Homo sapiens: one gene and its partners. The protein of the gene in region 1 purifies or fractionates together with the protein of each later gene. This does not show direct contact. Each region holds a gene or a part of one and is shown in the gene's direction. Other genes may lie near its edges.

Evidence for each region.
Region 2: the proteins of EEA1 (region 1) and SMARCA1 purify together in Homo sapiens (affinity purification with mass spectrometry; one large-scale study listed by BioGRID and IntAct). This does not show direct contact.
Region 3: the proteins of EEA1 (region 1) and SEC16A purify together in Homo sapiens (affinity purification with mass spectrometry; one large-scale study listed by BioGRID and IntAct). This does not show direct contact.

What each region holds. Positions count from the first base shown.
Region 1 is NC_000012.12:92,922,784-92,926,435, reverse strand, and holds part of EEA1 (early endosome antigen 1), read left to right. Parts: intron 1-3,652. UniProt on the Homo sapiens protein: Binds phospholipid vesicles containing phosphatidylinositol 3-phosphate and participates in endosomal trafficking.
Region 2 is NC_000023.11:129,513,423-129,517,074, reverse strand, and holds part of SMARCA1 (SWI/SNF-related matrix-associated actin-dependent regulator of chromatin subfamily A member 1), read left to right. Parts: intron 1-577; coding exon 578-744; intron 745-1,080; coding exon 1,081-1,181; intron 1,182-1,287; coding exon 1,288-1,388; intron 1,389-3,652.
Region 3 is NC_000009.12:136,448,541-136,452,192, reverse strand, and holds part of SEC16A (protein transport protein Sec16A), read left to right. Parts: intron 1-784; coding exon 785-937; intron 938-3,652. UniProt on the Homo sapiens protein: Acts as a molecular scaffold that plays a key role in the organization of the endoplasmic reticulum exit sites (ERES), also known as transitional endoplasmic reticulum (tER).

The sequences.
Region 1 (3,652 bases):
TTGTGTAACATGGCAACCTATTTTACCCCTCCCTGCTAATCTTATTTCTCAGCACAGATATTAAGCTATAAGATTAAAGCTATTGTTAATTTAGAGATTTATTTGAAATGGACTCTGTGCTTTGAAATTATGTGGCATTCCTTGGCTGGGTGCAGTGGCTCATTCCTGTAATCCCAGCACTTTGGGAGGCCGAGACGGGCGGATCACCTGAGGTCGGGAGTTCGAGACCAGCCTGACCAACATGGAGAAACCCTGACTCTACTAAAAATACAAAATTAGCCGGGAGTGGTGGTGCATGCCTATAATCCCAGCGACTCAGGAGGCTGAGGTAGGAGAATCACTTGAACCCGGGAGGTGGAGATTGCAGTGAGCTGAGATTGCTCCATTGCACTCCAGCCTGAGCAACAAGACCGGAACTCCGTCTAAAAAAAAAAAAAAAATTATGTGGCATTCCTTTAGCATTTTGTTTTTAGATGAACTTTTCATTTTAACTATTCTTATTTTCTTCTGAATAGTTTCCTTTAAATAGCATTTTTTAAAAGAAGAAACAGACAAACTGCTTACCATCAATTAGAACTCAAAGTGTTTGAACATCATCAATAAGTCTCAGGATACTTTACGGAAATTTGGTTTCTGGTTCTCCTGCTTTTGTCCCTCCTCCTGCTCCTCCTTTTTCATTAGCTTACTAAGGTGTTTCTCTGAGGCTTGAAAGAAGCTGGAAAACAAAAACAAAAAAACCTCAAAACAAAACCAAAGTGAAGTAGCTCCAATATGTATGTATTGAATATTTTACTTAATAGTCCTTCAAAGAAAAACATGAATTTAAAGTACTTGATGGTTAGAAATTTAATCAACGTTTAGTACCTTAGGCAGCTTGTAAACCTTGTTGCCATTTCTTTCTTAAGTATTATAACTTACTGTGGGCTGGCTTAGTGGCTCATGCCTGTAATTCCATCACTTTGGGAAGCCGAGGCGTGCAGATCACTGAGATCAGGAGTTCGAGACCAGCTTGGTCAATGTGGTGAAACCCCGTCACTACCAAAAAATACAAAAATTAGCCGGGCATCGTGGTGCACGCCTGTAGTCCCAACTACTTGGGAGACTGAGGTGGGAGAATTGCTTGAACCTGGGAGGCAGAGGTTGCAGTGAGCCAAGATCGTGCCACTGCACTCCAGCAACAGAGTGAGACCCTGTGTTAAAAACAAAACAAAACAAAACAAAAAAACTGTGATTAGTGTTTTTTTTTTTTTTTTTGAGACATCTTTTGTGGGCCAACTGTGTGCTGTGCAGACAATGATGGGTAAAGTAGTCATGAATTTTTTGTGGAGTTTAGCGTCCAGTGGAAGAGAGAGGAATTGTTCAGAGATTCATACAACTATACTCTTGAATGAGTTCTAGGAAGGACAAACTCAGGATGCCCCAAGAACACCCAGCAAGAGGGCCCTGGTTTTAGATGTTGGGAAGGCTTCCCAGATTAGTTGCCCATCTAAGTTTGATGAAAGTATTGCTAATTTATTGAAGTGAATTTTAAAAAGTGACAGCTAATGGAATGATTTTCTTTTTGAGTAGTTTTTTTTTTTTTTTTTTTTTTTTTTAGCATGTTAGGAATAAAGAAGAGATTAAGATATTAAAGAACCAGGACTAGAACTAAGAATAAAGAAGACGTTAAGAAATGAAAAGAACCAGGGCTAGTACTCAATTTTCTTCTCTAATTCCAGTGGCCTTTTGCTTGAGCTAAAGAAATAATGTAATTTAGTAGTTAAGAACATGAACTCTGATGCCAGACTACCTGGGTTTGTATCCTGTTTCATTTACTATCTGTGTAGTTTTGGAGAAGTTACTTCTCTGTGTCTCAGTAAAATAGTTGTAATAATACTAGCCTCCTTATAAAGTTGAGAACTAGATAACTAATATGTATAAAAGTCTCAGCCAGGCGCGGTGGCTCATGCCTGTAATCCCAGCACTTTGGGAGGCTGAGGTGGGTGGATCACCTGAGGTCAGGAGTTTGAGACCAGCCTGGCCAACATAGTGAAACCCCGTCTCTACTAAAAATAGAAAAAATTAGCTGGGCGTGGTGGCGGGCACCTGTAATCCCAGCTATTAGGGAAGCTGAGGCAGGGGAACTGCTTGAACCTGGGAGGCTGAGATTGCAGTGAGCCGAGATTGTGCCATTGCACTCTCCAGCCTGGGCAACAAGCAAAACTCCATCCCAAAAAAAAAAAAAAAAAAAAAAAGTCTTAAATGTTAGCTGCTGCTAATGTTGGTGTTTTGTTGTTGTTTTTGGTGTTTAACTTTCTTTTCTTATTTTTTTCTTTTTTGAAACAGGGTCTTGCTCTGTCAGCCAGGATGGAGTGCAGTGACACAGTGACACCGTCACGTTCACTGCAGCCCCTGCCTCCTGGGCTCAAGTGGCCCTCCTGCCTCAGCCTCAGGAATAGCTGGGATTATAGGTGTGAACTACCACACCTGGCTGATTTTTTTAAAATGGTGTTTCAGTGTTATTATAATTATAAACTCCAAATTTCTTTAAGGAACACTTTTCTTATCACTTCCTTTATTTTTCTAATCTCCATTTTTTTTTTTTTTTTTTGTAGATGAGGTAGATGAGGACTTAGAACATAGGTACATTCATTTTATGTACTACCGAATATTTATTTTGTGCTAACTACTGTGCAAAACACTCTTGAGAGTAAAAAAAAAACCTGCTGAGTTTTAATGGAGGAGACAGATAAATAATTACAAAACAATGTGATAAGTGTAATAGATACACAGAGGAAAAGTTTGTAAGCACAAAAGAAAAAGTAACTATGTGGTGGAGAGGGGGTGTGGTAGGGGAGGGCAAGGAATAGAGATTGTGGAAGTCTTTGCAGAGGATGGCAGTGACTCAGGCAAGGAGGGAAAAAGGACAGAAGGGCATTTTAGAGATAGGAACCAGACAAATCCAAGAGCATGATATAGTTTAGTATAGAGTAGGGGGATTGTGCGTATTTCTGGATGTGGATGGGATGTTTGCAACAGGTAGCTTGAAGGGTTTTGGACCTTATACTGTAGACAGTAAGGAGCCACAGAAAATTTTTTTTTTTGTTTTGAGACGGAGTCTCGCTCTGTCGCCCAGGCTGGAGTGCAGTGGCGCAATCTCGGCTCACTACAAGCTCCGCCTCCCGGGTTCACGCCATTCTCCTGCCTCAGCCTCCCGAGTAGCTGGGACTACAGGCGCCCACCACCGTGCCTGGCTAATTTTTTTGTATTTTTAGTAGAGACAGGGTTTCACTGTGTTAGCCAGGATGGTCTCGATCTCCTGACCTCGTGATCTGCCTGCCTCAGCCTCCCAAAGTGCTGGGATTACAGGCGTGAGCCACCGCGCCCGGCCAGAGAATTTTAAAGTTATCAAATCTGTAATAAGGAAAAACCCTCCAAAAATATTTCTCCCAGGTAATCTTTATTTTATTTTATTTTATTTTATTTTATTTTATTTTTGAGGTGGAGTTTTGCTCTTGTTGGCCAGGCTGAAGTGTAATGGTGCAATCTCAGCTCACTGCAACCTCTGCCTCCCGGGTTCAAGCAATTCTCCTGCCTCAGCCTCCTGAGTAGCTGGGATTACAGGTGCCCGCCACCACTCCCAGCTAATTTTTTTTTTGTATTTTTAGTAGAG
Region 2 (3,652 bases), on another chromosome or scaffold:
GAAGAGAGGAGTGTTTATTACATTACTATACCATGACACTGAAAATATTTTGAGACAAGATGATACTGTATTTTAAGATTTAAGTTATTTCTGGATACAACTTGGAAATTCTTAAGAGTTCAGTTTATGGTATATATATCATAGTTAATTTATATTTCAATATTTGGGATATGTTATATATTTGATGCTTAATTTTGTTACTATTTTATTTAATAAAATGATGTTTTGGAAAGAGGATTTGCTTTATGATTATGACTCTTTAAGAAGGGTATTTCTTATTGGGGAATTTACTGTCTGTCAGATAATTTTTCTTCCCTTCAAACTATTTGAAAATACATTTTCAAATTCTGCTGCTTATTAGCTGTGCAAGGTTGGGCAAATTACTTACCCTCTCTGTGCTTCAGTATCATGTAGTTACAATGGAGATGATACTTGTAATTACGTCATAGGTTTCTTAAGAGAATTGAATGGATTAATGTTTCAAGTGCTAAGAATGTTGTTCAAAGTAAGTATTTGTTAAATAACTTTGAAGGAATGAAAAGGAAAGTCCTTACTTTTCTTTTGTTTTGCAAATTAGAAAGCCGACCGAGCAAAGAGATTTGAATTTTTACTGAAGCAGACAGAACTTTTTGCACATTTCATTCAGCCTTCAGCACAGAAATCTCCAACATCTCCACTGAACATGAAATTGGGACGTCCCCGAATAAAGAAAGATGAAAAGCAGAGCTTAATTTCTGCTGGAGAGTATGTTGGCACCTCTCTCTCTACTTTCTTTCCTTTCTCCTACCTTTTCTTCCTCCTGTCCTCCCTTGATCCCTTCATGCACCCCTTCGCTCTTCATTGTTCAGTATACCTTCATGTGACAAAAAATATTGCCATTATAATTATGTTTTGAAGACAACTATATTTTTTTCTCACTAGAGGCTGATCAGTAAAAATGTAGGCTGGTTCTACTGATTTCTAAGCAAGACCTTGGACAACTCATTCTTTTTCTATAAAAGATAATAGCCATGTACACTGATTTAATTGATACCTTATCATTTAGGTCGAATATGAAGGGATTTCCTTTTTTAATTTCAGCTACCGCCATAGGCGCACAGAGCAAGAAGAAGATGAAGAGCTACTGTCTGAGAGTCGGAAAACATCTAATGTGTGTATTAGATTTGAGGTGTCACCTTCATGTAAGTACTTCATCACATTGGTGAGTTCTTTTTCAATTTAGTTTTAGAAAAATTTTACTTGAGTATGTTAATGAAAGTATGAAATGTCCTTGCATTTTTTCACCAGATGTGAAAGGGGGGCCACTGAGAGATTATCAGATTCGAGGACTGAATTGGTTGATCTCTTTATATGAAAATGGAGTCAATGGCATTTTGGCTGATGAAATGGTAAGGAATTGGTAGCTAAAAACACATTCTCAGTTATCAATGATTTTTATGTAAATTTGAAAAACCTGAGCTTACCTGCCCCCCTGATGCCTGGAGGCTTTTTAAAAGTTGTTATCATGTAAAAGGTATTTTGTAGTCTTAGAATTATTATTATTTTTTTGAGAGAGGATCTCTTTGTGTTTCCAGGCTTGAGTGCAGTGGTGCAATCTCGGCTCACTGTACCCTCGACTTCCTGGGTTCAAGCGATCCTCCTGCCTCAGCCTCCTGAGTAGCTGCGACTCCAGGCACGTGCCCACCACACTGGGCTAATTTTTATTTTTATTTTTAGTAGAGACAGGTCTCGCCACGTCACCCACACTGATTTTGAACTCCTGGGCTCAAGCAGTCCTCCCACCTCGACCTCCCGAAGTGTTGGGATTACAGGTGTGAGCCACAGCACCCAGCTAGAATTGTTTCGTTAAGTCACCGCTAGAACACAGACTTTCACAGGCCATAAAACTCTTACTGAGCTTTCCTCAAATGGTCCAAAAACCTTCTCTGTACTTTTGTTTTTGTTTGCATTTTGGCTTCCAGGAAGCACAGAGTCAAGATGGATGCCCAAATGATGCCTTTATGTAACTTTTTTTTTAAAATTTTTTGAGATGGAGTCTCGCTCTGTCACCCAGACTGGAGTGCAGTGGCACGATCTCAGCTCACTGCCACCTCCACCTCCCAGGTTCAAGCAATTCTCTGTCTCAGTCTCCTGAATAGCTGGGGTTACAGGCGCCTGCCACCACGTCCGGCTAATTTTTTTGTATTTTTAGTAGAGATGGGGTTTCACCGTTTTGGCCAGGCTGGTCTTGAACTCCTGACCTTGTGATCCACCTGCTTCGGCCTCCCAGAGTGCTGGGATTACAGGTGTGAGCCACCCCCACCCTGGCCTTATGTAACCTTTAATGGTCTGCCCTGTGTGTCCTTCTGTCTTTTCCTATTCTTTATCTACTTGTCTTTCTTACTTTCCTTGTCGTCTCTTTATTTCTATTTTGCCATTAATTTATGTTCCATGTTTTCATTGTAGGCTACCTGAAATCCTTTTGGGAATAAGGTGGGGTATACAAACCAAACAATATGTAAATGACTGCCTGAATATATGCATGTGTGAATGATTATCAATATTTTGACTTGTGAACAATCAAAAAGTGCATAGGTGGAATAAGGAACGAATAAAGAGTAATGTTGAATCTTGATACAGTACAGTGCATGGTGGGGCTTTGGAAATCAGTGAAGGAGTTATAAATGTGTAAATAAAATAACTGAACAGGAAAAAGTAAGGCATATAAGATGCTAATTCATCAGCTAAAGGGGGAATACATGAAGGCTTTTTTTTTTTTGAGACGGAGTCTCGCTCTGTCGCCCAGGCTGGAGTGCAGTGGCATGATCTCGGCTCACTGCAATCTCCTCCTTCTGGGTTCATGCCATTCTCCTGCCTCAGCCTCCCGAGTAGCTGGGACTACAGGCGCCCGCCACCGCGCCCAGCTAATTTTTTGTATTTTTTTAGTAGAGACGGGGTTTCACGATGGTCTCGATCTCCTGACCTCGTGATCCTCCCGCCTTGGCCTCCCAAAGTGCTGGGATTACAGGCGTGAGCCACTGTGCCTGGCCCCATATTTGTATTTTAAGACCAAATTAATAAAATGCGATTTAAGAGAGGGCAGGGAAAGTTCTAAATCCATATAACTCAATGATACTCATATTTATGTGACTCTGAAACCATACTTGTAATCACTATTATCCAGAAGAGCCACATGATGATACGTGCCCTATGGCGTCTAGTATAGTTGGTAGTCAGTCGCATAAGTACTCATCCCTGGTTGAGCAACTGTTAGGTGTGTGGCAGAGGATCCCTTAAAGCAAGGGTCTGTAGCTCCTTATATTTAGGTATTCTAGTTTGAAGACTGTTGTCAGCTCAGAGGGGGAGGAGCTTGGTTAATTGGACAATGGAAGGACCAGGATTATTTGCCCCAAGCAGCTCTTGGCTTCAGCCTGTCTAAACATGAAGGATCTGATCTTTAGTGATGAATTTGTGCTGATATCAGATATATGTATTATATATATAATATATAATATATAAATATATATAATATATACTTACTTTTTTTAATATATATATATAATTTTTTTTTGAGATGGAGTTTTGCTCTTGTTGTCCAGGCTGGAGTGCAATGGCGTGATCATTGCTTACTGCAACCTCCACCTCCCGGGTTCAAGCGGTTCTCCTCCCCCAG
Region 3 (3,652 bases), on another chromosome or scaffold:
ACAGGCATGAGCCACCCCGCCCAGCCCGGCCGTCTCTTTTTCTACAGTAGAATTTCTTTTCTAATTTTTTGATCTCACAAGAGGATGTCCTGGAATTCAGTAGAATTTCTAACATTGTCACTGGTTTTCCTGAAAGTGAGATTTATCTCATTAGACATGTTTGGTATAAATACCTCCTCTGTTTGCTCTACTCCTAACCAGGAGGGATGGTTGCTTTTATACAGACCGCATTCTGGAACCTTCTTTACAGATACCCAGCCCTTCACGGGCATCCCATCAGTAGGCGATTGCTATAGTTTGAACTTGCATTAGGTGTTTTACCCTTTAAAATACTGTGTCCCTGGAAAAGTAAAAATGAGGGTTGAGCTATTAAAAATTGGGACTTGACCCAGGAATAAATATTTTTAAAAATCATTGTATCTTTGAGAACACCCATCGCCCCCCTCTGGCCAGTCTTCCCTCAGTGCATGCTCACACTCCGTTTCTTCCAGCCCGGAATCTCCATCGAACGCCCTCATTTGCATTCTGAGTGCTGAGTGCTCCCAGACGGAGCTGCTTATTAAGTGCGGCTGGCTCTTCTCTAGTCAGGCCAGGTAGAGGCTCTGGGAGGCCCAGTCAGGGGGCTGCTCTCCCCAGCCCCCTTCCTGCCTCCCTCTGGTCACCAGAGTCATCCGGCCTCTCAGTGATGTATTTAGGAAACACGCCTGGGGAATTGCATCCCCCTCTCTCTTTCGGTTCCTGTGAGGAGCCCCAGGAGAGCCTGTTCTGCATTTCCTTGCGACAGACCCCCTCGAGGACGGTGCCAGACTCGGAGGCCCCCCCAGGGTGGGATCGTGCCGACTCGGGTCCCACGCAGCCACCTCTGTCTCTCTCACCCGCTCCCGAAACAAAGAGACCCGGACAGGCAGCCAAGAAAGAAACGAAGGAACCTAAGAAGGTAGTACAGCCTGCCCACGGTGCGCCTGGCGGCCGGGAGGGTTTGGGCAGGAGGCACGCTTCCCAGAGCGCCATCCTCTTAATTCACCACACATGCAAATAGCCTCCTGATACAAACAGCCGAGTGTCTACAGTGCACACGGCATGATGGGTGTCTGTGTATTTGTGCCTTCAGATAATAGGATAATAGCCCACCCAGGTCAGCATGGGGACACAGCCCGGCCCCCAGAGGTCGCCTCTGGCCACTACCTGTCAGACCCACCCGCAAGGGACCAGACGGCAGCCGCTGCTTTGTCACTGTGGTGTGTGCCTGCTGCCGGCTCACAGATCCTTTCTCCCAGCCGTGGACTTTGGGACTGCTTTCAGTGTGGGGCTGGGATCCGTCAGGCCCCAGGAGCCTCCTTGCCTATCTATTGGCGAATGCGCTTGTTTTTCTTAGGTGCGTGCCAAGGAGCTGAGGGTTTAGCTCGCAGGATGAGCGTGTGTTCAGCTTTAGGAGACACTGCTGAGCAGTTGTCCTAAATGGTTGGTTGCCCCAAGTCACACATCCTGCAGCAGAGGACAAGGGCCCTGGATATCCCTCATCTTCACCAATACTGGGCAGTGCCGGTTCTTTAACTTAGCCATTGTGCTGGGGCTGATGACATCTCATTGTGTCTTCCTCTGCATCTCCACAGCGAGGTGTGACGCTGGGCACCTTCTCGTGTCCCTGTTACCATCTCACCACTCTTTTGGGGCAGTGCTTGTTCAAGTCTCTATCCGTTGTTTTTTTTTTCCCCCATAAAGATGGGGTCTCACTATTGCCCAGGCTGGTCTCAAACTCCTGGGCCCAAGTGATCCTCCTGCCTCGTAGCTGGGACTGCAGGTGTAGCCACCACACCTGGCTTTCCTTTCCATTTTTAATGGTGTTCTCTTCAGGACTTGCAGGAGTCCTTTCTGTATTATGGATATAAGTCCTCTGTTAGGTGTATTTATTGTGATATCTTCTCCCAATCTGTAGATTGCCTTTTTACTTGTAATGGTTTTTTGTTTGTTTGTTTGTTTGTTTGTTTTGAGACAGGGTCTCACTCTGTCAGCCAGGCTGGAGTGCATTGGCATGATCTTGGCTCACTGCAACCTCCGCCTCCCAGGTTCAAGCAATTCTCCTGCCTCAGCCTCTCCAGTAGCTGGGATTACAGGTGCCCACCCCACTCCCAGCTAATTTTTTGTATTTTTAGTAGAGATGGGGTTTCACCATGTTGGCCAGGCTGGTCTCAAACTCCTGACCTCAAGTGATCTGCCTGCCTTGGCCTCCCAAAGTACTGGGATTACAGGTGTGAGCCACCATGCCCGGCCTAGTAATGGTATTTTATGAAAAATATCATTCTTCATTTTAATAAAGTTCAGTGATCAGATTTTTCTTTTATGGCTGCTGTCTTGAAAATAAACACACATTTAATTCCAAATTTGTGTGAGCTCTGAGATAAAACATGATACTTGAGCAGGTTTCCAGTGCATAGGCTATCACAGGCCTCCCCGGGACAGCTTGTCTGGCCAGTAGAACTCACAGAGAAACAGAATTGAGGGTGTGTAGTAGCTGCTGAGGCTTCTCCTCTTTCTTCAGTAGAAGTGAAGTGCATCAGGCCGGGCATGGCGGCTCACACCTGTCACCCCAGCACTCTGGGAGGCCGGGCGCAGCAGCTCCTGCCTGTCACCCCAGCATTCTGGGAGTCAGGGTGCGGCGGCTCACGCCTGTCACCCCAGCACTCTGGGATGCTGAGGCGAGCAGATCATGAGGTCAGGAGTTCACGATCAGCGTGGCCAAGATGGTGAAACCCCATCTCTACTAAAAATACAAAAATTAGCCATGCATGGTGGTGGGTGCCTGTAATCCCAGCTACTCAGGAGGTTGAGGCATAGAACTACTTGAACCCGGGAGGCAGAGGTTGCAGTGCGCCGAGATCGCGCCATTGCACTCCAGCCTGGGGGACAGAGCGAGACTCTGTCTCAGAAAACTAACAAACCAAAATGAAGTGCATCATGTGAAGAATAAAGTAAAGTTTCCTAATAACCGAATTCTCCACACATGGGAAACACAGAGGGCTGTATCTGCCTCCGACACACACTGACTTGGACAGCCCGCCTTCCACTTCTCAAAGGGGAGGACGTCGGAAGCTTTGTCAGTGTTTAGACGTAAAAAGTTCCTGAAGGCACGTTACTGTTCTGACCTATTTAAATGACAGTAAAATACACAGAACAAAATGCACATTTTTACCATTTTCTGAGTGCACAGTTCTGTGGCACCAAGTACATTCACACTGTTGTGTTGCCATCACCACCATCCATCTCCAGAACTGTCTCACCTTCCCAAACAGAAACTCTGTCTCCTTGAAACGAAACAACTCCCGGTTCCCTCCCACCTCCATCCTCCTGGTGTCTCTGGATCTGCTTCCCACCTCCATCCTCCTGGTGTCTCTGTGGATCTGCTCCCCACCTCCATCCTCCTGGTGTCTCTGTGGATCTGCCCCCCACCTCCATCCTCCTGGTGTCTCTGTGGATCTGCCCCCGACCTCCATTCTCCTGGTGTCTCTGGATCTGCTCCCCACCTCCATCCTCCTGGTGTCTCTGTGGATCTGCTCCCCACCTCCATCCTCCTGGTGTGTCTGGATCTGCTCCCCACCTCCATCCTGGTGTCTCTATGGATCTGCTCCCCACCTCCATCCTCCTGGCGTCTCTG